6 separate regions of the Homo sapiens genome follow, and regions 1, 3, 4, 5 and 6 are each reported to be linked to region 2. The links are microRNA targets in miRTarBase. Many come from high-throughput screens and were not tested one by one. Region 2 holds a microRNA gene; each other region holds the end of a gene's coding sequence.
Evidence for each region. Region 2 holds the annotated microRNA hsa-miR-33a-3p (CAAUGUUUCCACAGUGCAUCAC, at 1,630-1,651, shown strand). A microRNA usually pairs through its seed, bases 2 to 8, with sites in the 3' UTR of a target mRNA and lowers its output. Matches are read on the target gene's strand: a 7mer-m8 pairs with bases 2 to 8, a 7mer-A1 pairs with bases 2 to 7 and ends in A, and an 8mer does both.

Region 1: miRTarBase lists GDNF as a target of hsa-miR-33a-3p. The part of its 3' UTR that is shown has no 7-base or 8-base seed match.
Region 3: miRTarBase lists HNRNPR as a target of hsa-miR-33a-3p. Seed matches in the 3' UTR shown: 8mer at 3,830-3,837, 8mer at 3,796-3,803, 7mer-m8 at 3,268-3,274, 7mer-m8 at 2,556-2,562 and 8mer at 2,136-2,143.
Region 4: the mRNA of CASZ1 is a reported target of hsa-miR-33a-3p. Seed matches in the 3' UTR shown: 7mer-m8 at 2,906-2,912.
Region 5: miRTarBase lists COXFA4L3 as a target of hsa-miR-33a-3p. Seed matches in the 3' UTR shown: 7mer-m8 at 546-552.
Region 6: miRTarBase lists RHBDL3 as a target of hsa-miR-33a-3p. Seed matches in the 3' UTR shown: 7mer-m8 at 3,876-3,882.

What each region holds. Positions count from the first base shown.
Region 1 is chr5:37,811,072-37,816,132 of GRCh38, forward strand. It overlaps GDNF (glial cell derived neurotrophic factor), which reads right to left. Exons shown (of 3, transcript NM_000514.4): 3 at 1,606-5,061. The coding sequence ends at 4,580. Among named protein-coding and RNA genes, the nearest start is that of GDNF-AS1, 26 kb to the right of the region's middle.
Region 2 is chr22:41,899,360-41,904,431 of GRCh38, forward strand. MIR33A (microRNA 33a) reads left to right here and starts at 1,585; the gene lies at 1,585-1,653. It overlaps SREBF2 (sterol regulatory element binding transcription factor 2), which reads left to right. Exons shown (of 19, transcript NM_004599.4): 16 at 971-1,139; 17 at 3,611-3,796.
Region 3 is chr1:23,305,954-23,311,025 of GRCh38, forward strand. It overlaps HNRNPR (heterogeneous nuclear ribonucleoprotein R), which reads right to left. Exons shown (of 11, transcript NM_005826.5): 11 at 1-5,072. The coding sequence ends at 4,501. Among named protein-coding and RNA genes, the nearest start is that of LINC01355, 23 kb to the left of the region's middle.
Region 4 is chr1:10,634,253-10,639,324 of GRCh38, forward strand. CASZ1 (castor zinc finger 1) reads right to left here. Exons shown (of 21, transcript NM_001079843.3): 21 at 2,352-5,072. The coding sequence ends at 4,690. Among named protein-coding and RNA genes, the nearest start is that of CASZ1, 160 kb to the right of the region's middle. RefSeq lists an enhancer at 708-1,670.
Region 5 is chr15:45,432,519-45,437,587 of GRCh38, forward strand. It overlaps COXFA4L3 (cytochrome c oxidase associated subunit FA4L3), which reads left to right. Exons shown (of 5, transcript NM_197955.3): 5 at 430-822. The coding sequence ends at 498. MIR147B (microRNA 147b) reads left to right here and starts at 532; the gene lies at 532-611. It overlaps LOC107987223 (a long non-coding RNA gene), which reads right to left. Exons shown (of 2, transcript XR_001751510.2): 2 at 951-1,632.
Region 6 is chr17:32,320,921-32,325,992 of GRCh38, reverse strand. It overlaps RHBDL3 (rhomboid like 3), which reads right to left. Exons shown (of 9, transcript NM_138328.3): 9 at 1,334-5,035. The coding sequence ends at 4,764. LOC124903980 (a long non-coding RNA gene) reads left to right here and starts at 575. Exons shown (of 2, transcript XR_007065711.1): 1 at 575-615; 2 at 1,219-1,434. RefSeq lists an enhancer at 2,484-3,363.

The sequences.
Region 1 (5,061 bases), not on the chromosome of region 2:
TTCAGAGCTGGAGGCCAACAGCATGGCCTTCCCTCTGGGGATCGCAGTGAGGGGTGGCGCGCACTCAGGGCTGCAGACCAGCAAAGCACCAGCCCAAGAAGGACGGGGGAGCAAGGTGCAGGCGCCCCCAGGCTGCTGGGGACTTCCCAGCTCTCAGCACATTCTCCTTTTCTTGGTTAAGGAAGTTTCTAAAGTTGACCACTGGTTAATCGTTTTGTTATTCATGCTGAGCAAGAAACCAGGGTCCAAATACCGTGTGTGTGTGTGTGTGTGTGTGTGTGTGTGTGTGTGTGTGTGTGTGTTGTGTGTTTGGGGAGGGGTGCCCTCCCAGTAGGGAGCTGCCCAGTAGTTTCTGCCTCTTATTAATCTCTAGTACAGCTCGTGACTCACCATGAAACTCACAGGAACACGCAAGATGGCCCAAAATAGTTTCCAGGGTGGTCACCAGGTGTGATGAGAAAGAAGACAAAACAATGAACCCATGGATCCATGGTCACGTCTACATGGGGAATTCTGCACACGACACCCTCCCCTGGACTGTGAAACAATCATTGGCCCAATAAAGGCTCTGATAAGCTCTACAGTTATATTTTAAACCTTAAAGCATGGGTTGATGCTATTTAACTCAGTATTTTCCAAAGTTATTTGATCAGAGAACCATCCTGTCCTCCTCCCTTTTTTTTTTTTTAAATTTGAGGAGCATCTCACTGGGTAAGTAATCCTGGACACACTTTGGGAAAATAGCTCTAAAAAGGGAGAGGAGGTAAGCAGGAGTTTTACCATCTTATGTTCCCGCTCCAAGTCACTGACTTTGGACTGGAATTTTGGCTTGGAGAAAACGCAGCTGGCCTCAGCACCACCCTGGAGCCTCTTCCAGCCAGTCCTGGCAGAAGGACTCTGAATGCCTGAACCCACAGGTTGGTACCCGTGACTCCACCAAGTCTCCACGCAGGGACGGCGTGCATCGGGAAGAGGGGGCATTTCAGGCAAAGGCTAGTGCAGCACAAATGCCATCCATGGGGCAGCCTAGGCTGGGGCCATGCAGAAGAGCCATAGAGCACCATGCAAGGCCGCCTTTTGATAGTCACAAGGCAGTCTGTGACGTGACTCAGTTTCATACAAGCTGCTTCTTCTGCCTGGGACGCTCCTGATCTGTTGGCACTGTTTCTTAACTTCGGTCTTAAAGTCATTTCTAATTAAAGCAAGCTCCCCTGTTAGTGTCTATATTATAGGATCCTGTTTGTATTCTTTTAGCGTTTCTCAACACAGGGATCACTACATATTTTACTTTTTTGAATGTTGTCTGTCTCCCCGCAAATAAAATAACTCCAGGAGGACAGCGGTTTTTGCTTTGGTCACCATTAGAGCCCTGGTGCCAGGAACAGTGCCTGGCACAGTGTAGGCACACCATAAGGGTTTGTTGAATGAATAAGAACAATTTTGCAAGTTTTGTCCCTCCTGAGTGGGTGATTGGTTGCTGGGAGTTGATAGGCAAGGCCACTGACCATCCAGTGGGCTGTGTGGTAAGAAGGGGGTGATTCCTAAGAAATACTTGTGGATGGCTGCCTGGCCCAGTGCATGCAAGGAAGTACAGAAGTACAGAGAGCAATAGAAATGAGTTTTTATTTGTAAAAAGTTACAAAATGATATTGTACAAAAATAAAGTCTGTAGAGAACTTTGGTTTTATAACACAAACGACCAAGACAGATCAGAGAAGTCAGAACTTCCAAACAAGTGCACTCCTTACGGTATCAGATGGTGATCGCAATGATAAAGAAAAATCACAAACTTTACCCTTTTGTGGATTTGGTGGAGCAACTTGCTTCCATTAAAACCTGCTTGTGGTGTGTAGGTGATGCCGGGAACGAGCTATTGACACCCCTTGGATCCTACAGCTTTTTTGGGCAGGGACTCTCCATGGGGAGTTGTTGGGGGGGGTCACTGAGGTTGAAGCCTGGGAACAGTGGCCATCGCACTGCCAAGGTTCTCTGAATGGGACAGATGCCCCTGGGGCCACATCCAAATTGTGCTCCACGAATGACTGGATGGCTGGGGTTTGTCACTGTTTCGAGCAGTCTGAATTCTCAGCAAGATCCCAAGACAGTGTGAGAGGGAAGGCCTTTCCTCCATTTCCCAGGCGAGCAAGGGGAGCAGAAAGGACAGAGAAGGGCAGAACCATGAAGAATTTGGGTATTTTGGGGGAAGGGGATCAGATGTCTGGTAACTGCTGCTTCTTGTTACTATGATTATTTGATGGAGGCCAGTATTTCATTTAATTGCTAAATCTGTCATAGTTTTATACTAGTAGCCACTAAGGTAGGTAGTAATAGATTATCTCCTTAATGAAAATCCCTTTTATGAAATGCGTAACAAGCTGTAATACAGGGCCTAGTGTGTCATACATGTGTTGGCTGCCCGATAAATTCACAATCTAGGGCATGGAGGAGGTGGCTGTTCCCGCCCCTATGCTTCCTCCTGCTCCAACCTCTTTTTTTTTTTTTTTTTTTTTTTGAGACAGGGTACCGCACTGTCACTTAGGCTGGAGTGCAGTGGCATGATCACAGCTCACTGCAGCCTCGACCTTCTGGACTCAAGTGATCCTCCTTCAGCCTCTTGAGTAGCTGGGACCACAGGTGTGCACCATCATGCCTGCCTAATTTTTAAAGTTTCTGTAGAGACAGGGTCTCCCTATGTTGCCCAAGCTGGTCTCAAACTCCTGGGTTCAAGAGATCCTCCCACCTTGGCTTTCCAAAGTGTTGGGATTATGGGTGTGAGCCGCTGCACTGGCCCCGACCACCTTCATTTAAAGGCAGCACGCTCCTAAGTATGAGGCTCCATGTGTGTGGCTGTGGCTGGTCCCAATATGGCTTCCTCAGCACCCTTCTCAGCCATCTGCTCCCCAGGGAGCTGTCAGGTGTTTGGGTATATAGGAGCAGCAGCTGTTGACCCCCGGTGACAGCCCAGGGGTTGTACAGGACCTGGTAGACCCTACCTCTGGAAGGCCCCTGTGTCTCCCGGGCTGCACTGGGCAGCCAGCATATTCTCGGGAGGGCAGTGGGTGGGCAGGGATGGAGGGAGTCGGTAGAACGGCAGCTACCTGACAGCATTGTCGACATTACTTTTAGGTCAGCATTAAATCCAGGACTACCTACTAAAAGGAACTGAACCTTTTCTACATATGGTTATGCATAGTACAGATAGGTATACGTGGAGGGGACTAAGAGCTTAAAGACAACAGGAAGTGGAGCCCACGACATTTCTGTTCAGCAATGGAGCAAGGAAGAAATAAAGTCAAGTGCCAGTGGTCTCTGCACGCTGCTCCAGGAAAGGGGGCTTGCCTGAGATGCTCCACAAATAAAAATTGGGAAAAATGCTGAAATCTGGGGAAAATTAATGACAAATTTTCTTAAAAAGGTAAAGTAAGTGATTTTTGCCTGGCAAAAAACTTTTTAATACTTTGAAAAGCATGGACCCTTGTTCCCAATTCAAATTTCCTTTTGTCACCTTTCTTTGCATTTTGCGAGCACATATACTTTGGCACCTTTGAAAAGAAACTTTAATAAATAAGGGAAAAAAGAGAAATTCATTAGTGAACGGTAATAAATAACAATAACTTAAATTTCAATAAATATCTTCTCTATATTTCTGTATCTGAAACAGATGCATTGCATCGAGTAGCTTCTCTGGTCACTGGTGACCACGCATCAACGGAGCTGGTTATGTAACATCTGTCTCTCTGTAAACCAACAGGCCTGAGGGGCTCTCCCTGCCCGGGGGCAGTTCGGGGCCTTCCCCGATTCTCTCCTACAAGAATGCTGGCGAAAACCACAACTCGTTTCCTGTTTCCAAGGACATAAAGGAAATACCTTCAGGTTTGTGTTTAATCATGAGCACAGCCTTTTTGGTTCCTAGCCAACTTCTTCCCACCCCACACACCGTGATGGAAATCAATCACCAACCGTTGGCAAAAATGCTGGTTGTAGTAAACCTCGGGCCTCAACTTTCAAATGCAAAGGTGATTATCTCTTGTATCTTTGCTTTTTTTTTCCCCTCTCCTTTCCAGGGTATGTCTCCACTGAGTGACAGAAAAATAAACCTCTTACTTTCAGCAGTAAAACGTAATAACAAGGAACAACACCAGGATCTCTGTTTCCCTGGTGTCTTCGGACACATGAAAACAAATCACAGGAGATACACTGGTTTGGTTCAAGTGCATCCACCGCAACCGCGCCGGTAATCAGTGATGGTGGACTGTATCAGCTGAAATGGTGGCAATAGCCAACCAGGAACATCAGCCCTGAGCTTCTAGTGACATCGGCTGCCATCCTGGAGAATCCAGAGGGCTGTTTTCTCTCTCTCCTGTCCAGTTGTCTGTAGCTGGATCTCCCTCTACCAGGCTCCCATGATGGCTGCCTTCCTCCTCCTCCTCCTCCTCCTCCTCCTCCTCCTCTTCTTCTTCCTCCTCCTCCGCCTCCTTGGTCCTCATCTTCCATTCTGGGCAAACATTTCCTGGGAACCTTGGTCCCTTTCTTTGCACTGTAGCAGGAATGCAATACACAGCAGTCTCTGGAGCCGGAGTCAGATACATCCACACCTTTTAGCGGAATGCTTTCTTAGAATATGGTAAACCAGGTTATCATCTAAAAACGACAGGTCATCATCAAAGGCGATGGGTCTGCAACATGCCTGCCCTACTTTGTCACTCACCAGCCTTCTATTTCTGGATAAGTTTTTCAATATTTTGTCGTACGTTGTCTCAGCTGCATCGCAAGAGCCGCTGCAGTACCTAAAAATCAGTTCCTCCTTGGTTTCATAGCCCAGACCCAAGTCAGTGACATTTAAATGTATTGCAGTTAAGACACAACCCCGGTTTTTGCCCCTCTGGCCTCTCCGACCTTTTCCTCTGGAATTCTCTGGGTTGGCAGCTGCAGCCTGCCGATTCCGCTCTCTTCTAGGAAGCACTGCCATTTGTTTATCTGGTGACCTTTTCAGTCTTTTAATGGTGGCTTGAATAAAATCCATGACATCATCGAACTGATCAGGATAATCCTCTGGCATAT
Region 2 (5,072 bases):
GCATTCGGCACTAGTGATGGGCAGCCCTGCCTGCTGACTCCCCGGCTGTTTCTAATTGGATCTGAGTATTCTAAGAGAAACTGTAAAATGCTCCAAGACAGAAAGGCCCCACGAGGTCCTATCCTTAGAGCCAAGGCTGTAGCATTTCCTATCAAGCAGACCCTTAACCGGCGCACAGGAAGGAGCTGAGAAGAGTGAGTATACACAGGCTTGAAGTCCTTTGTTCCCTGAAGTAGATGTGACACCCTAATTTCATTGAAGTAGCCCCATTTGTAAGCACTCTGACTAGGTAAGCACCCAGCCCGGTATAGCATTCCACCTGTATGTGTGTCTCCCCCAGTCGATGTGCCTGAGGACACTGAGACTCAGCAGGTAAGTTGTCCAAAGTCACCTCGCTCCAGAGCAGCAGAGCTTCCATGGACAGCCAAGACACCCCTGCAGGCACTGCTGCCTGCTGGATTCACTTACCCCTGGGTCCCTCTGCTTTTCAGGGACTAGGATGCTATGAGAACCCTCCCCCATCCCTAGCCTCCCCTTCCACTCCCAGTCTCCTCTACAGAAAGAAGCTAACTAAGTATCTCCAGAGAGTTTAATACCACATCTCTGGGGGGGTGGTCCCTTAAAGAACGGGTACAACACCTTATTGTGGCCACTTTATAGGTAAGGAAACTGAGGCACACGTTGGAATGACTATCTTGGGTGGCTTCTTAGCAGCAGACGTGATGGTGAAGCCTGTGTCTCTGACTTCCAGCATTGAATGAAGGTGCTAAAGGGTGGGGCGCTAACCCTAGCTCAGGGCTGGCATTTCAGATCTGGAGCTGGTGGCATGGTGCCATAGTGGCAGCATTGGAGTCAACAGATGCACATGTCATATCAGTGTGGGGCGTGGCAGTCACTGGCTTGGGCCCCTCTGCCTGTCACGCAGGTGACACATAGTGACCTGCCTCTCGACTCCCTGTCACTGCTGCAGGAGCCCCCTGGTGAAGGCCATCTTCCATGCCTGCAGAGCCATGCATGCCTCACTCCCTGGGAAAGCAGATGGGCAGCAGAGTTCCTTCTGCCATTGCGAGAGGGCCAGTGGCCACCTATGGAGCAGCCTCAACGTCAGTGGGGCCACCTCTGACCCTGCCCTCAACCACGTGAGTGGGAGCTGAGTTGGCCCCTGGGGGAGGTGCTCTGCACTGGTTTACGAGAACACTCCCACTCACCTCATGCTGACCCTGCGGGTGGGGCCATCCGAAAGACAGAGAAACCAGGACAGCAGCCCCCTTTCAAAAAAGTTACGGCTTATTGGCCTAGGTGGACTCCTTTTTCATCCCTTTTCAGCCTCTGAGGCAAGTGTGTTTCTACCTGCACCTTTCTTAGGCTCCCAGAGTCCCAGGTCCTGCTGGCCCATAGCCTCTGTAAGCCCAGGTGCACCCCAGCTGGCCAGGGGTTCACCTGCATTTGCTCCAGCGGTTTGCGTGACTTCCCAGGCCTCTGCAGGCAGCCTTGGAGTGGGTTCCTGCCCCCTCGGGCACACAAACAGAGCTGAAGACCACCCTGGGCACCTCCTTGGCTGGCCGCATACCTCCTGGCGGGCAGCTGTGGTGCATTGTAGTTGCATTGCATGTTCTGGTGGTACCCATGCAATGTTTCCACAGTGCATCACAGAGGCCTGCCTGGCCCTCGAGAGACTGCCCTGACTGAAGGCCCTATCAGGTGGGGGAGGGGATCCTGATAGAGGGCACTGCTGCCACTGTTGGGGCCCAAGTCACAGCCATCCCAGGAAACAGGAGGGCACCCAGCTGAAAGTGGAGCATCACCTGGTCTACGGGGAACATGTCCTTAGCTCCAGAGTGGGAGGGACCGGGAGAGTCCTGGAGATTCAGATTCTCAGCCACTCCCTGGGGCTTGGTCTTAGCTGGCTAGGCTAGTACTTCAAGCTAGATATTGTCAGTGGACCTGGGCACTGGGATGAACCCAGGACAGCGTGGCAGCCCCTACAGGGACAGGCAATGTGCAGAAAAGGCCCAAACTGGCTGGACGCGGTGGCTCACACCTGTAATCCCAGCACTTTGGGAAGCTGAGGTGGGCAGATCACCTGAGGTCAGGAGTTCGAGACCAGCCTGACCAACATGGTGAAACCCCGTTTGTACTAAAAATACAAAAATAAGCCAGGTGTGGTGGCATGTATCTGTAATCCCAGCTACTCAGGAGGCTGAGGCAGAAGAATCACTTGAACCCAGGAGGTAGAGGTTGCAGTGAGTCGAGATTGCACCACTGCACTCCAGCCTGGGCAACAGAGCGAGACTCCATCTTTAAAAAAAAGCTGGTGGGGGTGCCCAAATGCCCTGGGCTGCCAAGACCAAAGGCAGATGGTGAGCCACATTTCACCTTCTCTTTTGGGCTTTCCATTAGTCTCTTCCGTATTTGTCTTCATGAGAGAACCAAACAGTACAGGCTCAGTTTGGGGAATGAGAGGCTTGCAGCCACCCTTTGGACTGGGGTTCCTTGGTAGCAGCTCTGTGGTAGGAAAGTGAGCCTAGAAGACAACGCCATGCAGCCTGATGGCCCTCGGAGGGCAGAATCCAGACATAGGCCTGCTGCCTCCATGCCCACAGGTGCTTCTGCAGCATGCACAGCTTAGAAGTGCCAGGTTTTGAGGAGAGGGATCCTTTTCCACATCCCCTTGAAGCACACAACAGCCAGAAAACAGTGTAGGCAAGGATCAAGGCCTTGTGCAGGGACAGGGCAGGGTCTTCCTCAGGCCCAGTGTCCTGGGAAGGAGGAAAGCCAGGGCTGGGTGAGATGAGGCTCAGCCTGAGGGAGTTCATCAGGACCGGAGGGCTGCTTGCGGCCCATCTCAACAAGGACTCCTCACTGCTCGGTGTCGTGCAGGTGTGCCACTGCGAGCCGGGTGGGCAGCCCAGCCCCATAGGTCGTAGGCAGAGAGTATGCATGGCCCACATGCAGTACCTTCTCATATGATACAACAGCCCTGTGATGGTGCCATTTACATTTTTTTGAATGAAGAAACTGAGGCTCAGAGAGACTAAGTCCTATGCCAGGGTCATGTAGCTAGTAAGTGGCAAAGCCGGGTCAGTAGGCCTAGTCCCCAAGCACTAAGGCACTCTGTGGTTCTGTCTTCTGAGACACCTGTCTCCCTCTCCCACTCCTCCTCCTCCTTCCCCCAGCCCCATCGACAGGCTCTGCTGCCACTTCAGGCTTTTCCTTGGTACCTTGTGGGTATCTCAGCCTCCTAGCCAGCCATGGTGGGACTCCCATGGGGTGGAAGAACCTGCGCCTTCAACCCACAAGGGTTTTATTTCTGCCCCTGCCACCTGCCTGTGCTGTATTCCCTATACAAGCTGCTGTCCCTGTCAGAGCCTTGCTTTCTCACCTGCAGAATGGGGAGGGCTTGTCTCCCACCTCCTGGGGCCATGGAAGGAACTGGTTCTCCCCTGAGCTGTTCCCTCACGTCCTGCGGAGTTCACCAGACTCTGGGGCTCTCCACTTCCTCCCAGAGCTGCTGAGTGTTGGTCTGGGGAGAGGCCTGGTAGGTGCTAGGATCCTTGCCTCAGGGATGGGCCAGTCACCTGTCTCCCCTCTCTCGTGGCTGACCCCACAGGTGGTCCAGCTGCTCACCTGTGACCTGCTACTGTCGCTACGGACAGCGCTCTGGCAAAAACAGGCCAGTGCCAGCCAGGCTGTGGGGGAGACCTACCACGCGTCAGGCGCTGAACTGGCGGGCTTCCAACGGGACCTGGGCAGCCTGCGCAGGCTGGCACACAGCTTCCGCCCAGCATACCGCAAGGTGAGGCCCAGCTGGCTGGTGGGGCAGGGCAGATTGGAGCCTGTGGGGCCTGAGCCCAGAACCCAGCATGGGCACCAGCATGTGGTTGTGGAGTTGGCCCTCTGAGGTCAGCCTGGTGACCTGTCGAGCACCTGCTTGGCTCGTGCCCAACACTGGGCTAGGCGCCATGTGTCCCTGTGTTCAGCACACATTGGTTGAGTGCCTGCTGTATGCCTGGCCCTGGAGCTCAGCAGGGAGCAGGCCACACTTTGCTGCCACAGACAGGGGCCAGCAGGGAGCTGTGCCTCCCCAGGCACATGCTGGGTGGGAGGGCTCTGAGGGCAATGGTGGCAAGTCAGGGCTCCTGGCCTGGTCCCGAGCTCCACGTTGACTTTCATTCTTTTTCACAGTAGCTAGAGGCTTCGGTTCTGCTGCTGGGTAACATCCCCTTGGCAGTGGCCACGTGATCTGAACTAAGTCACGGAGGAAAGTTCTATGACTGGGCTTGCCAGGCTCCAGCTATTTCCTTTTTTGTTTATTTGTATTGCTATATAATGTATTCAACATATTTGTACCTGTATTTTTTTCTAAAAATTTGAGTGAGATGACTCAAGTGTCATTGAGGGGGCACGGGCTGGGCTGGAAGAAGGCCTCAGAGCGAGGCTGCTGCCGTGGAGCTTGGGATTCAGCCCCCACACCCATCACCCTGAGGTGCTGCGGGGCCCACCCAGGGTTGCACTGTGGCCACTGTGTGCAGCAAGCCAAGACAGACACAACAGACAGTATCATCGGAGAGCCATTCCTTACTGTGGAGAAGAGGGCATGTACCCCAGGCCTGGAGCGGCACCCCTGCCTCCTGGAGCCCACTCTGGTCAGCTCTCTGGTCTGCTCACAGCATGGCTGGCATCAGTGGCCTTTTTTTCATAATAGATGGGGTCTTGCTATGTGGCCCAGGCTGGTCTCAAACCCCTAGCCTCAAGCTGTCCTCCTGCCTCGGCCTCCCAAAGTGCTGGGATTACAGGTGTGAGCCACCTCGCCTGGTCCAAAGGCCTCCTCTTAAATACCATTTCCATTCTGCTGCTCCCTGCTGAGAGCCCATCAGCGGCTCCCCATTGCCTACCAGGACCAGAATCCACTTGGCAGCACTGAAGACCCTCCCTGAAGACTGAGATATAAAGGCATCAAAAAGAGCTTGAGATTTTAAGAAATGACAGACCTCAGCCTTGCCCTTCACCCACCAGTGGCTCATACCTAAGCGCTGCAGACTTTACCCGCACACCTCTAGACTCTCTTCCTT
Region 3 (5,072 bases), not on the chromosome of region 2:
AAAAATAGTATCTTTGGTGTTTAAGCCCTCCATTCTATCAATGTCTTCTTGTTTTCACTAAAATTAGTGTGCAATAAATATCTCTTTAAGATGCATTATATGTTAATCTATCCAACAAAATATAGAAAATATAATACTAGACTGAAATGACAGTTAAAGCAAATTTATTGTCTCTCCAAGAGACTTTTTAAGATTATAAGGTGTCTATTTTGCTCACTTAAAATATACCCTGAGTATTTCATTACTTCATACTTGCAGGCCTTTCCTGCTGATCTGCTACCAATTTAAAAGTAAGTGAAGTGTTATTATATGTTCCTATTAAGAACAAAATAATTTAATATTAAAGTCCTATTTTTCTACAAGGCTGACATAATTGCCCACTTATAGGATATGGGCATTCTCCCACACTTAATGCCCCACTACTGATAAAAAAAAAAATAGGAAAAAAAAGTTCTTACCAACAATTCCACTGGTTATCGTCCCCAGCGAACCCCACCTAGCAAGTCGACATCATGACATGTCAGGTCAGGGCAGCCTCAACCTCGCTTCCCTGATAGTCAGGTGATAAAAGGAAGGAGTTAAAACAGGAAAAGTACACTTGCAGATTTCTGGATAACATCTGAAAATGATTAAAAAAACAAAAAAACAAAACAAAACAAAACAAAACCAGAGCTTCTGGTAACCTCTAAATAAAAAAGTATATATATGTACTTTTATTTAAAGAAAAAAAACTTTTCTAGAAGGATTAACAATAATTAACTTCAAATTAAATATTATTAAATTGCTGACCAATACATTGTATATGCAATATTTTTAAAGCTTGGTGTTTGCGTTTGAAAATTAAGACCTAATCAACAAACTTCTAATATAAAAGTAAACATGTCTGGCTAATGGATTTGTTATTCTGGATTCTCCAGTCAGTCATCCAATCTACTGGTTTCCTCAGAACAACTCCACCCCTAAGTTAACAGAAGCTCCCATTCTTAGAGAAACATAAACACACTTATAAATCCAGTGTAGTCTTTCTATAAGGCTTTTTCTTAGTTGCTCACTTAAGAGATTCCACATAATAATTGTCCACATAATAATGGACTACACTAATATTAACTTTGGTTAGTTTTCTTTAAGAATATTGGTAGCTCAGTATAATAAAATTATCTTTGAAAAATCAAAATGACAAGTTTTAACATATTTAGAAGCCTTGATAATTGACAAGCAATAGCCTTATAGCAAGTATTTACTGGAAGGGTTTGGTTTTACAAATGCACAATTAATAAAACGTAGGTATGATTATATTCAAATGGGCAGGAGGCAAATGATGTAATGAGTTTCAAGAATAATATTATATGGCTTTATGCTAGGAGTGAAATTTTATGTCCCTTCTCTTTTAGAATTTAAAATATATAATTTATTTTTTTGCATGCTGACCTTTTTAAAAAGAATTCATCTCCTAAGTCAGATTTCAAAGTCAAAAGAGAGAAAAATTATCTCCTACTATCAGAAAGCATTGGGCTTTCTTATGCAGAATAACCCCAGTAACTAAAAAAACCTGAAAAACAATTATGCTGAACTCATTTTAAAAAAACTACAGAATCATAACTCATTTTCCTTATCTTTTCACCAAATAAACCTGCATTTATTAGAAATCTGGCAACTTATTAGAACTTTTTTGCTCTTAAAAATTAAAATACCTTCATATAAATACATACATTTAAGCAACTGCTATAAATGAGTGATCAAATAAAAATTAGTATTCCATTATGGGGAGGGGCATATTTGTATCGGTCTCACCAGGGTACCTACAAAGAATAGCTCTATACCTCAATATATTTCCCAACACACACTTTACTGTAACAGGCTCATAAATAAAGCCAAATCAATTAGCTTGGGGAACAAAAAAGATGGAAAGACAGGAGAGCAGGAAACCAAATTCCTTACACTCATAATTTGTACCTAATTTAAAAAAAAAAAAATGCCAATCTAGAATAAAGACCTCCCTCAACTGACATTTTTCAGGTTTATATATTACACTGTTAGATTTATTTATGTGAAAAGTTGAGCTCTGAATCTATTTTCTCTGAATGCTGCTACAGTGTTAATTTACAAGACATGAAAGAAGAAAAGCTCTTGAGTTTTAATGTTTATAGGATTATGCTTTACAATTTAAAATAGCCACAAAACCTATAAACCAAATATTAGAGGGTACCTCTGCAAATATATTTTTAATTAGTGAAAAGGACAGAGGAGGAGGTGGCCACTTTAAAATTCAAAATATAATTTGCAATTAAAGGAAAGGATTTTGACATGGAACCCAAGTTTTAATCTTATGTTTTTGCGAGGGTTTGTTTTCTCAGAATCATTTCTATCCCCATTCTTAGCATTCTTTATGACAACTTTGTAGCTTGTAACACCTAATTAAGAAATACAAACAACTCAAATTTTATTTGTAGATTTTGTTCTTTCCAGGAAAAAAATCAGGGTTTTACTTAAGTCTAATTAGATGTATAGTTACAACTTCAAATTGTACTTTCAAAGTTTAAAAGCAGCATTTAAAGAATGTTTGGTGTCTTTACTTGCATACATGGGCATAAGAAAAACAACTGGATCTGTCTTACCAAAGAAATACCCATGTTAACTCAAAACTATCATACAACAGACCATAATTCCTTTATCAGTTTCCAAAAAACTAAAATATCAATAAGGTCTGTTAAATGACTATACTGTGTAATGAGTGTACTTTGAAAAAGAAATGAAATATATTGACTTTCATCAGTAAATAGTAATCTTAAATTGAAATGAAAAGAAGCCATGAAACCCAATATGATCTAGCCAAGATTACACGGAATTAAGTGGCTTATGATTTTGAAATCTAATATTCCTATCACAAAGACACCAAACAGGAACAAAACACAGAATAATGGTGTATCCATTTTAATTATTCCCCAATGGCTTCTGATATTTTTATCATTATAAAAACATTTGAGAACCACGTAAGAATAAGATGGAGGGGAAAACTTAATAGTAATTTGAAAGTGATTCACTTTTCTGTACCGTAAAGCTTAGATTCTTTTGTTCCTCTCATTCTCAAGCAAAAAAGTCATTAGAATAAATCAGAATTTCTAAAGGAAATAGGGAAATAGATGTTATGTCTTGGCCAACAAAAAATTTGGGCATCAGGGATAGCAGATAAATAAAAATAAACGAAGTGTTAACAGAAAGTCAAAGGTATTACTACTGGATATTTTTAAGCCTCTCTTACAAGGCATGAATGTTTCTCAAAGCAAATTTACATAGTAATAGGAAATTATATTCCTAAACCAGTAACTGAAATGGTAGTCACGATCATTTTCACTAAAACTAAAGTCCGCAGTGCAATTGACGCCACAGTACTAACAATTTTCCCTGTATGTACATTCACTTATCCAGCAAATAAGGTCTTCAGTCACAAATTATCCCTTATAAAGAATGTGGGTCAAAATAAATTGCAGTCTGCTTTCCCAGCCACATTTTATTTGTTTTAATGCAAATTATCCAATGCCTGCAAGAATGCTCAAAAGTCTATGAACCTGTTTTTTTTTTTTTAATAAAAGATAAAATTTCAAAATTAGAAGAGACTATGAGAGAACACCAATCAATGAAAGTGCTAATTGGAATAAATACTTGAATTTAGACTAATCCTCAGTCTAATATCCACAACACATGTTGGAATAAACAAGAAATTTTGCATGAATTTGATCACTCACATAGGCAGTTATACTTTGAAAACAATATTCCTTGCAAGGATTACGAATAAAATAATGTTTTAGGACACAATTGAATTTGAAATAGGTAATGTTTTGAATAGATTTTTTAGTTTTATTGAAATCTTACATGAACAAGAAATTGGAAATACAATCACATCAAAGAACAAATTGTCACGGCTTTTGACGTTTAAGCCAAACAAATTTTGTAGGGCAGATTTCAAAAAGGTGTGAAGTTATAACAATTTAAAAACACAGTTAACCTACTTCTAGGAATGCAAAACATACAATCATAGGTTATTTTCAATACAAGAAAACTTAAATTTGTTTGCTTTAATTTCTTAAAACTACTAAGACAAAGCACTAGCTTGTATTTTTATTTACAGCATACTCCATACTCCTATGTAATCTATCCCAAATCCAAAAAAATGAAACTGTCCAAAACCAAAGGTTCTGCAAAATCATGATTTAACAGTGTGCCCAGCTTGTTTTGAAGCTAAAATGAAGCCTGAAACGATAAAAGCATTGTAATCCCCAGAATAAGGGAACTCTGCAAGCCCAATAATGTCCAAGAGCATTTATGAAAAGAGGAAAAATAAAAAGACTTGAGTATATACACAATAGTGATTTCTTCAGCCCAATACAAATGGCAGCAAAATGCTACTTAAAGATGAAACAGTTAAGCCAATTTTTTTTTTTGAAGAATGTAGATCTAGAGCCAATCGTATCTTGCCAGTATCATTTTCAAGCCCTTACTTGTCTACTTCCACTGTTGCCCATAAGTATCCTGATAAAATTCCTGGTTGTCATTATTGTAACCATAGTTACCAGAATAGTCACCACCTTGCTGAAGCGGCTGCTGAGCGATGGGTTGGGAACCCCAGTTCTGTTGGTTGTTGGTCTGACGACGCTTGGAATCAGGCTGGTTGTACCCATCTGCCTTTCTCTTGCCTCCTACATTGCCCCCACGATTGCCCCGAGATCCACGGGAACCACGGCCTCTCTGCTGTTGAGCAGGACCCCCTCTGCCACCCCTAGAGCCTCTTGGTGGTCCCAAAGGTGCCCCCCTCTGTGAATAGCCAGCTCTACCTCTTGGAGGTGGTGCTCCCCTCCCCCTTGGTGGTGGTGGAGCACCTCGCCCTCCCCTTCCTCCTCCTCTTCCTCTTACTGCATAGCCATCATCATAGCCGTAGTAGGGATCTTCATAGCCTCCACGATAGTCGTGATAATCATAACCATAGTAATCATCATAGTAATCTTCATAGCCGTAGTAATCTGGAGGGTAGCCATATCCACCTCTCCCCCCACCACGACCCCGACCTCTAATTGGAG
Region 4 (5,072 bases), not on the chromosome of region 2:
AGCGCTGGCTGTGGGCCCCCTGGGAGCTGCCGATTCCTCCCTGACCTGCCCCAGAGGGTGCGGAGGCACCTCCCAGCAAGGATGGCCGGGGCCTGGCTGCTTCATTCTCAGACAAGGCTCTGGGATTCCAGCCCTTCAGAGGGCACTGCTGCCAGCCCTGGTCCTAGACCAACGCTACCTGTGGGGCCAGGGCCACCTCCCGTGACAGTGGATGGGCAGCTGGCCTTTGCCCAGTGGCCTGGTATGCTGCCCAGAAAGGGGGCTGCCTGTCGCCATGTCCAGGCTGGGGCAAGGCCGCTTCGTGAGCGCCAAGGCCCGGCGCCCACGGGTGACTCAGGTTGCTGGTGGCGCCCCTGCTGGGCCAGGTCCGTGGGAGGTGGGCAGGCCCCTGAGCTCAGCCCTGAGCCTGTGCGGCGGGTTCTGGCCCTTTCCAGGAGGTTGCAAAACACTTGAATTTGCCCCAGTTTGGGTGTAGGAGCATCACACACCACAGCTAATTAAATCCCAGAAGGAAAGCATGCTTTACTGCATTTCCTACTGAGTCCAACAAGCCACAGGGAGTGCCGTGGGACCTGGGCCCATCCCAACCCGCAGCTGCAGGCCCCCTCCCGGCTCTTGGGGGCGGTCTCAGAGTGGGCAACACATGCCTGGTGGGGGTACGAGCTTCTCTCCACCCTCTGGGGCGGGGCCTGGGATGTGGCATCATGGGCTGGCCTGGGTGCAGCGTCCTGAGGCCTTGAGATGCCTCTGAGAGGTCCCCGAGTCCCCGTTCCCCTTCCTTGGGCTGGACTCGGGGCCCTGCTTGTCGTGAGGTTGGTTGACCCTGGGTGTGGTCCATCCAGGCCCAGAAGACCAGGGGGCAGTTTTGGGGTCTGGCCAAGGTCAGCAAACCACCCTGAGTCCCCATTCTCCCTCCCCTGGGCCCCAGGAGTCAGTGCTGCCCCAGAGAGCTGCCCACTGTGCCGGAGCCTAGAGGGAGCTCTGTGGCTGCACCACCCACCCACCGGCTGCTCAGGGCTTGGCTCCCTGCCTCGCTTCAGGCCCCACGGGAGGCCCACCAGGGCCTGGGAAGCTCCAATAATGGTTTTAATTTGTTGAACTTGTGTTTTATCCCATAAATTAGTCACTGTTTTATTTAACAGAATCAAGATATCCGCAAACAATAGGCGAGTTCCAACTTGAACATTTTAATAAGACAGAAAAAAGTATATATTTTCATGTCTGTTACAAACATATTTATGTAAATAGCCTGTGGGCTGCATTCCAGGAGGAAAGAAGAAAGGGAGTGCCCGCGCGCCGGGGCTGGGCTGGAGACGCACTTCTGCGGTGGGAAATGACACAGGCCTGGGCGCTGTGGGCTGAGGCCACTCCCCTGCCGTCCCTGGTCCCTGGTGCCTGGTGCCTGGCCGGCTGGTGCCAGGCTCAGTGAGGGAGAAGCGTGCTGCGATAACCGAACCTCTCCAGCCCCCAAGTCTGCCTGTTTCCTCATCGGGCAAGTGGTTGTGACATCCCTGTGGCTGGGGTGTGATGAGCCGGTAAGACTCCTCAGCGTGGAAGAATGTGGCAGATCCCGCACACATCCCCTCCCCAAGGTCCCAGGAAGCTCCGGCCACCTGGAGTCCAGCTCAGGGAGGGGCTGCCAAGGTGATTCTCACGATGTGGTGTCGTGAGGAGCCGGCCATCAGTTGGAAGTGTCAAGACAAACTCTCGGAGCGCCTGGGAGGCCTGTACTCCAGGCTAGGTCTGGTGGACACTCCGGCCACTGTGCTTCCGAGGGAGCCAACCACGGTGCCACCAGGGCTGGCAGCTCAGGCTCTGGGCTGGTGGCTACGGACCCAGGAATTATCGGCCCCTTCTGGCTCTGCCACCCTGTGCTCCAGGCAGGAGTCGCGCCAGCATCCGGATTGGATCCGGGTACGCGCCGTTCCCAGCCCGGGCAGGTCCCTGCAGGAAGGAGGAAGGAGCCGAGGGAGGAGGCAGGAGGGTGGCCCTGCCAACGCCGGCCCAGCAGCCCAGGAGAGGAGAGGGTTGGCTGGGGTGGGGGTCCTGGGAGGCTGCAGGGCCTTTGTCCGACGACCCAGGCCTTGGTGTCAAATGGCTCTGCCCAAAGATGGCTCCTGAGCCCCAAGTGGGGGCTTCAAGCAGGGCTGGGGAGGAGGCTACCCTTCTGGCCAGGCCAGGAATGAGCCCCCTACCTCTGTCCCCAGCAGCCCGGGGACAAAACTGGTCTGTTCCCCGCTTTTCCTGCCAGGGTCGAAGGGTGCCCAACTCCTCCCGTCACCCCACCGGTGTAGCTGGGTCATGGCCAGCCGATTGGGGGCGATTTTAAGAATAAAAGATAACTTGATAGATTTTTTTCCAGTTTTTATTGAGTGAAAATGTCAAACCTTGCATCAGTCATGCAAAAAAAAAAAAAAAAATCAAATAAATAAAACACATATATTAAATTTCTAATAGCACTAAATTCAAGTGGAAAAATATTCAGTTCTTAATAACCAGGTGCCGAGGAGACCAGATTCAAGTAATCAGAGCACACGCTGTTCAGCTCGGGTTTCACGTTCTGTATTTTTTTTGTCTCAAAACCTCTCTATATATCTCTATATATCTATATATGTATATACATATAGATATATACACACACATATGTGCATACATATTATTTGATATTTATATATATACACATACATAGTTATAAAACATTAAAAAGAGCATTGGTGGATCAAGCATTGTTTCCCCACAGAAAGAAAATAAAACAAAAATTACACGTTAAAATTCAAAATGAGCTAGCAATGGCTTATAGTCCTAGTGTGCAATATGAAGTTTACAAAAGGCTAGACTCCGCACTGTCGGCATCTTCTTCTTTTCTTCTTTTTTTTTTTTAAGTTTGATTTTGCTACATTGAAAAAATGTTTGTGTGTGTGTGTTTTTTTTTCCTTTACAAAACTCCTTCCACAGACGCCCGGGGCCTGTGGCGGGTCACTGTCTGGGCAGATGCTCACAGCAGCACGTGGTGCCCACAGAGTTCAGGAGGCTCTGGTAGGGGCTGTTTTAGAAAATAACTGATTTCCTGTTGAATCAGGTACGCTCCGTGCGACCACTCCTCCCTCCCTGCTCCCTGTCCAGTTCGGGTGGTCCTGGCTTTCTGGCTGTGGGCAGCTGAGAGGACAAAAGAAAGGAAGAAAAAAGGGAAAAGTAAACCACTGCCCCCCAGTTGAGCCAGGTTCCTCCTGGAGACCTCTGGGGAGGAGGCTTCTGGATGACAGCCTCCCCGCCAGCCTTCCATTCCCTCCTAGGCCTGTTCTCTCCCGGTGGCCCAATCTGACACCAGCTGGTGGCCTGGAGTAGGGAAGGTGGGCAGGTGTGGCCTCGGGCAGCCTGCCCTCGCAGGGGACTCGGTCCCCGGGGACCTCAGAGCCACTGGCCAGGTGTGTGCCTGCCAGGTCAGGCCCTGGCCCGGGCTTCGATGGCATCATCATCTCCAGGAAGGGGGATGTTTTGCAAAGGGAACCCAATCTGGGTAGACTGCACCAGCGAAGAAGCATCCCAAACAAAGTAATAAAACAAACTGGAAAAAAAAAAAAGCCCTATAAAGCCACACGCATCACCAAGAGAGAACTCAAATGTTAAATTAACTACAAACTTGGATCAACAGTAATAGTCCTTTTTTCTTGTCTCTACAAAATTCAAGTTAAGAGTTGGAATCACGCAGCTCCCATCAGTGCTATTGTGAAGACAGACAGCCTCAAACAGTTAAGGCCTCTACAAAAACCCTGGACCAAATCCCACAGGATAAACGGGACTGAGCCTCCAACCTCAGGCCGGGCCCAGGCGGGTCTGCACTCTCACCACGCCTGCTTTCTTCCTTTTTGTTCTATGTAGAATAATAACCTTTACAGGAAAAATACTGTACAACTTTCTTGTATTTTTTTCCATTTTGAACATTAAAGCCAAAACCAGGCGCATCCTTCCTGTTTGCACCACCAGGGTGGCCGAGACCCCGCCCCGGCCCCCAGCGGGCTACTCTGGGTTTTGGACGCAGCCTCGGTTTCCCTGGGGCGGAGGCTGGGGCCAGGGAGTCGCCAAACAGACCCGACCCAGGCCTGGGGGAGCAGCCGGGCCCTGGGGTGGGGCTGAGCTGGAGCTCCGCGGCTGCTACTCCCGTGAGGCTTCCTCCACGGTCCCTGTAGTGTCACCCGTGCTGACTGCCTTCTGCCCGTCTCCCCCTGGGCAGGGGGGAGGATCCTAGCTGCATGAGGGAGGCCCCGCCAGCGGCTCCAGGAGCCACCCCGCCCTGGTGGCGCGCGGTGGGGGTCCCGGTGGCCCCCAGCGCCCGTCCCAGTCCTGAGCAATGGTCGCGGGGCCGAATCGGCCGCGGGGAGGGGCGCCGGGGCAGCGGCCGGGAGCTGCGCCGCATTCGCCCGGGACCCCTGCTCCTAGGTTCCCTACCCCGGGACAAGAGCACCTTCTGTTTCCCTGAAGAGACCCGGCCTCCCTAGAGCAGGGCCACCGCCGCCGCCTGTGTCCTCGGCCGCGGAGCACCAGAGGGGTCCCCGCCTCTGTCCTGAGACGGACTCGGGGTCCGGAAGCACCGGCGGGGCGCGGGGCTCTGCCCAGGGGCCGCTTCGCGCGGGGCGGCGCCGCTCCCGAGGCCGAGGCCGAGGCCGCCGCCAGGGCCACCCGCGGGCGCCGCTAGGGCGAGGAGGCTGCAGTGGGCGCGGGGCCGGGGGCGCCCAGGGCCGCCAGCGCCGCCAAGGCCGGGGTCCGCGCGCCCGCGCCCGCCGCCTCCGCCGCCGCCTCGGGCAGCGACTCCTCCGAGTCGGTGCGCAGGTCCTCGTCGTCGTCGTCCTCGTCGTCGTCCTCGTCGTCGTCGTCCTCGTCGTCGTCCTCGTCCTCGTCGTCTTCGGCCTCCTCCTCCGGCAGCTCCAGCTCCTCCTCCTCGTCCTCCTGCGAGGACTCCCCAGCTGCGGCGGCGGCGGCGGCGGCGCCCTCGCGCGGCCCGGGGGCGGCGGCGTCGGGCGGGCCGGGGTCGCCCGCGTCGCCCAGCGCCAGGCCCAGGCCGGCGGCCGCCGACT
Region 5 (5,069 bases), not on the chromosome of region 2:
GCTGGGTGTAGTAGAACGCACCTGTAAACCCAGCTACTGGAGAGGCTGAGGCACGAAAATTGCTTGAACATGGGAGGCGGAGGCTGCAGTGAGTTGCAGTTGTGCCACTGCACTCCAGCCTGGGCAACACAGCAAGACTGTCTTAAAAAAAAATCTGGATACTGCTAAGTGAAAGTAGGGCACATGTGTTTGATCTTTCCCTCTGATCTCATAACACTTAGGAGCCCAAGGGCTTTGTAAAAAGATGGACTGATAGAAACCAGCTCACATTACTATTTTGTGCATGTTTTAGATATGGAAAGAGGTAGGTACAAACACAATGGTGATGCTTTTTCTAAAGGGGAGTGTGGACAAATCCGAAAGAGGGACATGCAAATGAAAGTCAAATTTTTAACAAAAGGTTTTTTTTTTTTCCTTTTTTCTCTTCAGCTTATAACAATCAACCAACAATGGAAACCCATTGAAGAGTTGCAAAATGTCCAAAGGGTGACCAAATGACGAGCCCTCGCCTCTTTCTTCTGAAGAGTACTCTATAAATCTAGTGGAAACATTTCTGCACAAACTAGATTCTGGACACCAGTGTGCGGAAATGCTTCTGCTACATTTTTAGGGTTTGTCTACATTTTTTGGGCTCTGGATAAGGAATTAAAGGAGTGCAGCAATAACTGCACTGTCTAAAAGTTTGTGCTTATTTTCTTGTAAATTTGAATATTGCATATTGAAATTTTTGTTTATGATCTATGAATGTTTTTCTTAAAATTTACAAAGCTTTGTAAATTAGATTTTCTTTAATAAAATGCCATTTGTGCAAGATTTCTCAAAGATTAGGTATATATTTAAATGGAAGAGAAAATATTTTTATGGGAGAAAAATACATTTGAACCATGAAATTTCATCTTTTAAATAACATCCAGTACAGATTTCTGTGTAAGCTTTTTTTTCCAAGTTCATTCATTCACTAGTAGTTTATTGAGCATCTACTATTTGCAGTATAGCTAACAAAGCCAAAATTTGGTGGGATACGAATAAAAGATGGTAAGTACAATGAGGAAAATGAAGTGGGGATGAGGTTGGAGACTCGCATGAGGACTGACCTTGGAGGAAGTGTAGGATTCTGGAGATGAATTGGAATGCAAGGCATACTGAGATCTGCCCTAAAGATGCCAAGCCAGGCTGGGCGCGTGGCTCACGCCTGTCATCCCAGCACTTTGGGAGGCTGAGGCGGGCAGATCACAAGGTCAGGAGATTGAGACCATCCTGGCTAACACAGTGAAACCCCGTCTCTACTAAAAATACAAAAAATTAGCTGGGCGTGGTGGCGGGCGCCTGTAGTCCCAGTTACTCGGGAGGCTGAGGCAGGAGAATGGCATGAACCCGGGAGGCAGAGCTTGCAGTGAGCTGAGATCACACCACTGCACTCCAGCCTGGGTGACAGAGTGAGACTCCGTCTCAAAAAAAAAAAAAAAATGCCAAGCCATACTGTGATGTTCCTGTGGAGGCTAGGGAGAGGAAGATGGGGAGCCTTGCCAGCGCTCTTCAGAGTTTGGGGCCACTCTTCCCTCTGGCCAATGGTAACTTGAAGGCTGAAGATACATTCATATCCAGCATGCCGCTGGGCTCCCCTGCCTGTCCCTAAAAATGAAATAAGAAGAAAGTTGCTTTTCATTAACTTTTTTTAAAAAAATGGAGATATAATTCACATGTCATAGTATTCACCCATTTAAATTGAACAATTCAGTGGTTTTTAGCGTATTCACAAAGTTGTGCAACCATCTCCATCTACTTTCAGAACATCTTCCTTACCCCAGAAAGAACTCTGTACCATTAGCAGTCATTTCCCTAGTCCCAACCCCTCTGCTCCCAGCCCCAGGGAAATACTAATAAACTGTCTCTATGGATTTGCCCATTCTGGACATCTCATGTAAATGGAATCAGGCAATATGTGACCTTTGGGTTTGGCTCCTTTAACTTGGTATAGTGTTTTTAAGAGTCATCTATGTTGTACCATGTTTATATTATCAGTATTTCATTACTTTTTCTGACAGTACTCTTCCAGTGTAAGGATATGCCATTTTTGTTCATTGGTAAGTTGATGAACATTTGGGTTGTTTCTACTTTTTGGCTATTATGAATAATGCTGCTATGAACAGCCATGTACAAATTTTTGTGTGGCCATATATTTTTGGTTCTCCTAAGTAGGTACCTAAGTTCGTTAACTTTTTTTTTTTTTTTTTTTTTTTTGAGACAGGGTCTTGCTGTGTCACCCAGACTAGACAGGCTGGAGTGCAGTGGCACCATCTCATAAACTTTGCCTCCTGGGCTCAAGCAATTCTCGTGCCTCAGCCTCCTGAGTAGCTGGGATTACAGGCATGCACCACCACCACACCTGGATAATTTTTGTATTTTTAGTAGAGGCAGGGTTTTTGCCATGTTGGCCAGGCTGGTCTTGAACTCCTGACCTCAAGTGATCCAACTGCCTGATCACTTGAGGAAAGGAGTGATCCCTTCCCTCCCCATTGGATCATGGCTAACACCCCTATAACAAAAGACAGGTTAACTAGAAAAAGCATAACACACTTATAGTTTACTTGACATGGTAGCCTTCAGAATGAAGACCCAAAGATATAGGGAAAACTGTTCATTTTTATGCTTATGTTCAATGAAAAGTCGATGTAGAAATATGATTGGACATGTAGAAATATGGACAAAAAGGATATGGTCCTAATGCTATCAGAATAGACTACATGGGGAAGCTCACCAAGGCCTGTCTGCAGCATTTCCTTCTGCTGGGTGTGGGGGTGGGATCCCTCTGGAATGAGTGTCTTAATTTCTTTATGGCCAGCTGTTACATAGAAAGGTGGGGGAAATTTAAGAGCAATATATTTAGGTTTTATGGCTGGCTTTCAGGAAACGGGATTCTGGCTTCTATGGCCGGTCTTGGAGAAGAGGAATTCTAGTTTCTATGGCTCACCTGGGGAAGAATCAGGGTCAACAGACAGGAGGGCAGAGAAACTTTGCTTCTGCGGCCTTCATTTGGGGTATCATTTTTTGGGCTCCAGCGTTACCTTCACAGCAATAACAAATAACTAGGTTTTGCCAGGAACTTGGCAACTCTGAGAGGATTAAAGCAAGACTGCTGCCAACTTCTGTTGCTTCCTTATCACCTCAAGTCGTCTCAGATTAAAGTCTCTGATAGTTGATCTCAAGGAATTACACGTAGCAATTGGGAAGCACATTTTTATTTGCTTAAGCTTCTAAAGTCTAATGTAATGTCATTTGCACAAATAAAAATTAACGGTTGGTCAACTAAGAGAGCAAAGTATAGAGTGTTTTTCAAGGGATGACTGTGGCTTTCAACTTTAAAACACAAACCTGATTGAAATGTGGTGGTGTGAACATGGCAATGGGAGGTACTTTTCTGCAGGTTTAGGAGGGAGAGAGGCCAAAAGCAATGTTGATGCTTAAATTTCAAAAGATTTGGGTTTTGTTGTTGTGTTCTTAGCATTTCCTTCAAACATTTTATTTTGAAATTTTTCAAATATGCAGAGAAGTTGAAAGTTACTCACACTTCTTATCAATTAACATTGTGCCACATTTGCTGTATCTCCCTGTGTATGTATGCTTTTCAAAAATTAACTCGTTGAGGCCAGGCACAGTGGCTCATGCCTGTAATCCCAACACTTTGGGAGGCTGAGGCGGGCAGATGGCTTGAGCCCAGGAGTTTGAGACCAGTGTGGACAACATGGCGAAACATCTCCACTAAAAATGCAAAAATTAGCCAGGTGTGGTGGCACACACCTGTGGTCCCAGCTACTTGGGAGGCTGATGTGGGAGGATCACCTGACCCTGGGAGGTCAAGGCTGCAGACAGCCTTGATCTCACACCACTGCACTCCAGCCTGGGCAACCCAAGTGAGACCCTGTCTCAAAAAAAAAAAAAAAAAAAAGTGTTGAGAACAAGTTACAGACATGAGGCTTTTTTCCCTAAAAATTTAAGCATGTACTCACTGCCTAAGATAAAAGACATTGTAGCTGACTAGAATACCATTATCATCCCTAAGAAAGTTAACATTCATTCAATAATATCACCTATCATAAATATGATAGTGATATCATAAATATCACCTTTTTTTCCTCTAATTGTCTCAAAAATATCCTTTATATCTGTATTTTAAAATCCAGAATCATCTACTCCAAGGTTTACTTGTTGCATTTGTCTAAGTTGTACTGAGTACTTGACTGACTTGTGGTCATGAAAATGACTCCAAAGCAGCTTTTATAGAACGGCCATCTCTACAGATAACGAGAACATTACCCGGATAACATTCTCTTACATGCAGACTTTACAATTTTTTATTTACAATCTAATAATGATGTATTTTCATGTAGTTTATAAGAGGTTGTACAATTGATGAGCACTCACTATGTGCTAGACGCTGTGCTGGCCTTGAGGCTCTTACAGCTTAGGAAAGGGATACACACATGTAAACAGCATGAGAGCAATGCCAGGACAATAAAGCAAGGACAGGAGTAGGCACATGGTATGAAGGAAAGCTTCCCAAAGAAGGTGGATCCCTGAAAGTCTACTTCGGCTGATTTCTTGAAAAAAAAAAAAAAAAAATCATCATCATTACAAGTCAGCAAGGCAATTGAAGTAGAGGCACATTTTTACCAAGACAGAGCCACCTAAAGTAGCATGGTGTCTCTTGGAAACTTGGAGTAGATTAATACAGGGAATTTTTTTTTTTTTTTTTTTTTGAGACAGGGTCTCACTTTCATTGCCCAGGCTGGAGTGCAGTGGTGCAATTACAGCCCACTGCAGCCTCGACCTCCCCAGCTCAAGTGATCCTCCCACTCAGCCTCCTAAGTAGCTGGGACTATAGGCTAGAGACTGAGTTTCGGCATGTTGGCCAGGCTGGCCTCAAACTCCTCGCATCAAGCAATCCTCCTGCCTTCGCCTCTGAAATTGCTGGGATTACAGGCATAAGCCATCCTACCTGACCAATACAGAGTATTTTTAATATTAAGAGAGATAATTGGAGAAAAAGAAGTAGGTGGAATGTGTAGGAC
Region 6 (5,072 bases), not on the chromosome of region 2:
TTTTAGTAGAGACAGGGTTTCACCATGTTGGTCAGGCTGGTCTGGAACTCCTGACCTCGTGATCTGCCCGCCTCAGCCTCCCAAAGTATTGGGATTACAGGCGTGAGCCACTGCGCCTGGCAGTTTTTTTGTATTATTAGTAGAGATGTGGTTTTTTCATGTTGGCCAGGCTGGTCTCGAACTTCTGGCCTCAAGTGATCTGCCTGCCTCAGCCTCCCAAAGTGCTGGGATTACAGGCATGAGCTACTGCGCCTGGCAGGAGCTTGCCTTTAAATGGCTCAGGTACTTTAGCCTGAAGTTGACCTATAAGAGCACTGATGCTCAGAGAGGATCCTGATTTCTCCTTCTAGGGAAGTTGGATCTCCACACTGTAAACAGAAGTGGGTTCTTTGGCCTTTAGCCTTAATGGCACTCTAAAGTTTGTTCTTGGATAGATTCTGCAGCATTTAAATTTTCTTTTCTTTTCCTTTTTTTTTTTTTTTTTTATTTTGAGACAGAGTCTAGTTCTGTCGCCCAGGCTGGAGTTTAGTGGCATGATCTCGGCTCACTGCAACCTTCGCCTCCAGGGTTCAAGCGATTCTCCTGCCTCAGCCTCCCGAGTAGCTGGGATTACAGGTGCCCATCACAGCGCCCAGTTAATTTTTGCATTTTTAGTAGAGACGGGATTTAACTGTGTTGGCCAGGCTGGTCTCGAACTCCTGACCTCATGATCCGCCCACTTCGGCGTCCCAAAGTGCTGGGATTACAGGCGTGAGCCAATGCGCCTGGCCTGGTTTTTTTTGTTTTGTTTTGTTTGAGACGGAGTCTCACTCTGTTACCACGCTGGAGTGCAGTGGTGCAATATCGGCTCACTGCAACCTCTGCCTCCATGGTTCAAGCGATTCTCTTGCCTTAGCCTCCTGAGTAGCTGGGATTACAGGCGTGCGCCACCACACCCAGCTAATTTTTTGTATTTTTAGTATAGACGGAGTTTCATCATGTTGGCCAGGCTGGTCTTGAACTCCTGACCTCAGGTGATCCACACGCCTCGGCCTCCCAAAGTGCTGGGATTACAGGCGTGAGCCACCATGCCCGTCCTACATACACATTTTTATGGGAAGAGAAATCACAGCTTTCATCAACCACTCAAAAGAGTTCAGTGATTTGAGAAAAGTTAAGTAAGATGCACACAGCTACAGACTGGTGCTAAGCACTGATGCCCCAATCTGTATTTTATAGAAATCCTGGATCCACCACCGCTGCTGTTCACCCTCTCCCACCCATCCTGACCCAGACCCAGATGAAACAGGCCCTAATGCCAGCCCTTCAGGTCACTTCCTGAATAACCAATGGCTTGGAAAAAGAAAAAAAATATTTAATGGAATCTGTGCTCAAATAATATGTTACAACAAAAATATACAGAATGTACACAATACAAAAATACTTAGAAACAAACATTGCAGTCTGTGTTTTGTTTTTTCCACTTACTCAAGTCCTCGGAGGGGCAGTTCACTGTTGGGCACTGTTTTTAAGGCAGAGGAGAACCGTGCTTTCCAGCCAGCACGGGGAGCAACATGAATGATGCCAGGAAAGGCTTTCACGGCACCCAGGGAATCTGCATTACGTATTTGCAAATTAAATTGGACGCTGGGGGAAGATCCTGGTGTGGTGAGCAACAGCTCCCCTAATCCTCTGGGCAAGAATGGTTCTCATGGAAATCGAGAGTCCTATTAGCTGGCAAAAGAGCCTCATTAGGGAGCTTTTCCTAATTAAAAAACGAATGATGAATGGTGTCATTAAAGCGAAATTTCTCCTTTGAAGGTTTGTTTTCCCTTCCCCAGTTTCTGTGATTCCTCTCCCGTTTAATGAGAGCCAGTGAGTCTATGGCTGCTGTTTGGGGATTCCCCAGCTTTCAGTTTCTGTATCCTGTGGATAAAAGGCCAACCTACCTCCACCAGCCTGAAGATTTACACACCACCCCCTGGGCTGGCAGCCACCTCAGACAAGGAAAGAGGCACAGAGGACACGGCCAGCCTTGGCCATGGGGAAGTGCTGCTGAGAGGGTGGTGGGACCTGCTGAGGAGAAAGCCAGATGCCACAAAGAGAACCCCTCTGACCAGACAGCTGCCTCCTGACCTGGGGAGAGGCCTGGGTCAGGTGAAGTGACCCTATGACCCCACCCTGTGGCCCCGCTTGGAAGTCATGGTTGGGAGAGGGGATGGAGGTGGGTGTGCTGACAGAGAACAGCTGGGGCTGGTGGTCTAAGGTGTAGACGAGGGTCCTTGGCAGCAGAGGACACACTTAACATGGTGGGAGACACGATTCCGCCTCCACTGTCCTTCTCAGTAACAAGCTTCCCTGGGAGTCCCCGAGGGAGCTGAGTGCTTCTATGAGGGATTTCTAGAATCTTCTAGTTCAATGCTTTCTCACCCCTAAGAGAGGAAGCCCCCTCTCCAGGTCATACCAGACAGAGGTGGCACTCTGCTCATTCCACCCACACCACAGAATCCCCAGGGGCCAGGACAGGAATCTGGAGGGGATTCTCCATCCCTCCAGGAAAGGACCTCATCGCTCAGCTTAGTGCGGCTGCAGCCCAGGCAGAGGCAGCAATGTCCTGACTCCTTCTGCATCCTCCCCTGGTCTTCCCTGAGCCCAGCTCCACAGCCTCAGAGCCTCCTCCTCTGAGGCACTGACTTCCATCTACATCTTTCTATCACTAGGGCAGAGAACGGTGGGCAGGGCACACACAAGACGCCCCAGGCTGACGCAACACCGCCAAAGGCGTGGGCCCACAGTGCCACAGGCTGCGGCCCTCAGCATGGCACTGGTGCAGGGGAGCAGGACCTAGGGAACTACATATGTGGATGAGGCCAGGGCAATCTATTTAGCAGTGGGCCAAGATGCGGTATGGCTGGGCCTCGCCTGCCAGTGAGTGAGTGAGCCCATTTACATGTAGTCACCAGGATGGGAAGCCACTGTGGCCCAAGACCCCAAATGCCTGGCCTGACTGACCCTGGACCCTGCTACACTCAAGGGCCAGGATGGGCACCAGGCTGGAGGAAGACCGTTCCCACACTCCTGCCCCTGTTTCTGGACACGCCCAGCCCCCCTGCCTCCTCCCAGGCCTGGCGTTCTTTGTTCTTCTGGGCTGTCAGTGGTTGAGAATTCCAAGAGCACGATAAAGGGAGTGTCATCTTTTGTCAAAGGTCATCCTCATGCCCTCCATTCGGGGCCTGCACCAGCTCCTGTTAGGAGGGTCATTCCCTCCATCTTGTTTTCTCACCTGTGTAATGGGGTGGGGTGGATTTGATAACCACCATGTTCTCTCCCGCATCCAAGCCTCCGAGGCTACTGGCTGCCCTCCCTCTGAGGTTCATCCATGCACCCAACAATTCTCCTGAGGCAAAGTTTTCCAACTAAACTGGAATTCCTCTTCCTGTAGCCTCCTGTCCCCCTAACTTAAATGGACACATGGCCTCAACATTCCTACCCCAGCCTCTCTTGCGCCCCCAAAGCTCTTTCTCTCCTAAGGGAGATAGGATGGAACCTTTTTGGATATGAAGGCCATCTCAGACGGAAACAAGAGCTGAACCTGGCAAACCTCAGCATCCAGGGATCCTTGGAGGGCTTGAGCTCTCCCTCCAGCAGGGCCATTCTGCCACCGGTCAGTGATGCTCAGGGGCAGGTGTGGAAGGGACAGGAGATGGGAAGGAAGGGGGCAGGCTTTGTCAAAGCAAGGACATTCAGCAACCACAGCACACCACGGTCTGCCACCTCTCACGGATGCCCACATGGGCCCCCTGCATCCTCCATGCCTTCTCTGCAGGCGCTGTCGTGCCTCAGTTACCTTTCCCATCACATACACACATATACGCACACACACACACACACGCATGAATGTTTCAAAACACTGTCTCCATAACCAAAGAGAGGCACAAAGTAGTGTCAGGGCAGCAAAAGGAAAGAAAAAGACCCTAAAACAAGGCTGGGCATGGAGGCTGGGGCACCCGTGTGAGATGCCAATATCCTGGAAGAAAGGGAGGGAGAAGTCTGAAGCTGGTCCTGGGTCTGTCTTCTCCAGGGTGGAACTTGGAATGAAGTTTATTCCCCCTGCATGGGTCCCTCTCACTGGGTACCCCCAGCACAAGAGGGGTCCTAGAGCCTACAGGCTCCCTGCTCTGCCCAACCCAGGCACAACAGATCATGCCCCGGTGCACACCAACCAGCCCAGGAGGGCACCCTGGTTTCAGCCAGGTCACAGCTGACATGTCCAGTAGGCCCTCTTCTTACTGGAGCCCCAGACACAGCAGGTGTCAAGGAGACACCACATGGCCTGCAATTATTTCTGAGCTAGAGAGGGGCCATGCCTGGACGCAACAACCTTCGAGCCTTCCCATGTCTCTTAGGGTCTCTGAGGGTAGAGGAGGAGGAAGAAGCTGCTGCTCAATCCGCAGCAGTGAGGGGGCACCCCCTGGCCCCATGGAAGAAGCCCAGCCCAGGTGAGGGAGGGCCACTCTCACACCCCACCCCAGACCTTCACCCTGGCCCGATGTCATCAGAGCAGCCGAGAAAAACGACAGCAGCCACATCAACTCCTCCGCCAGATGCCTTTCAGAAAAGGGTCTCCACTGTGTGTCCAAATCTAAACACAAACATTACAGTGGCCCAGAGTCTTCTGTCCTTGTCTGCCCGGCCTAGCTGAGCTGGTGATGAGAAGAAACCTCGCAGGCGCTCCCTGTGGGTGCTGCTTTTCCCTCCCCTCCCCGACCTTGGGCCTCCAGCCCTCAGGGGGGAGGCGGCAGCTTTAAGTCCAGCAGGGTGTAGGCAAAGATGTTCCAGAAGACAGCGAACAGCACGAAGACGGTGTACATGGCCACAAAAATCCACCACAGTGACTGGTCCTGGAGCCTCTGCTCGTAGTTCCTCAGGACCACCACGCCCAGGGTGATGCCCACGGCCACGCCACCCAAGTGCGCCACAAAGCTTGGGTGAGGGCACGGGGGATAGGCCGACGGGTGGAAGCGGAGCCACACGGCCCGCCCAAACTCCATGCTCACTGCAAGGGGAGGAAGCAGAGAGATGTCACAGGAGGG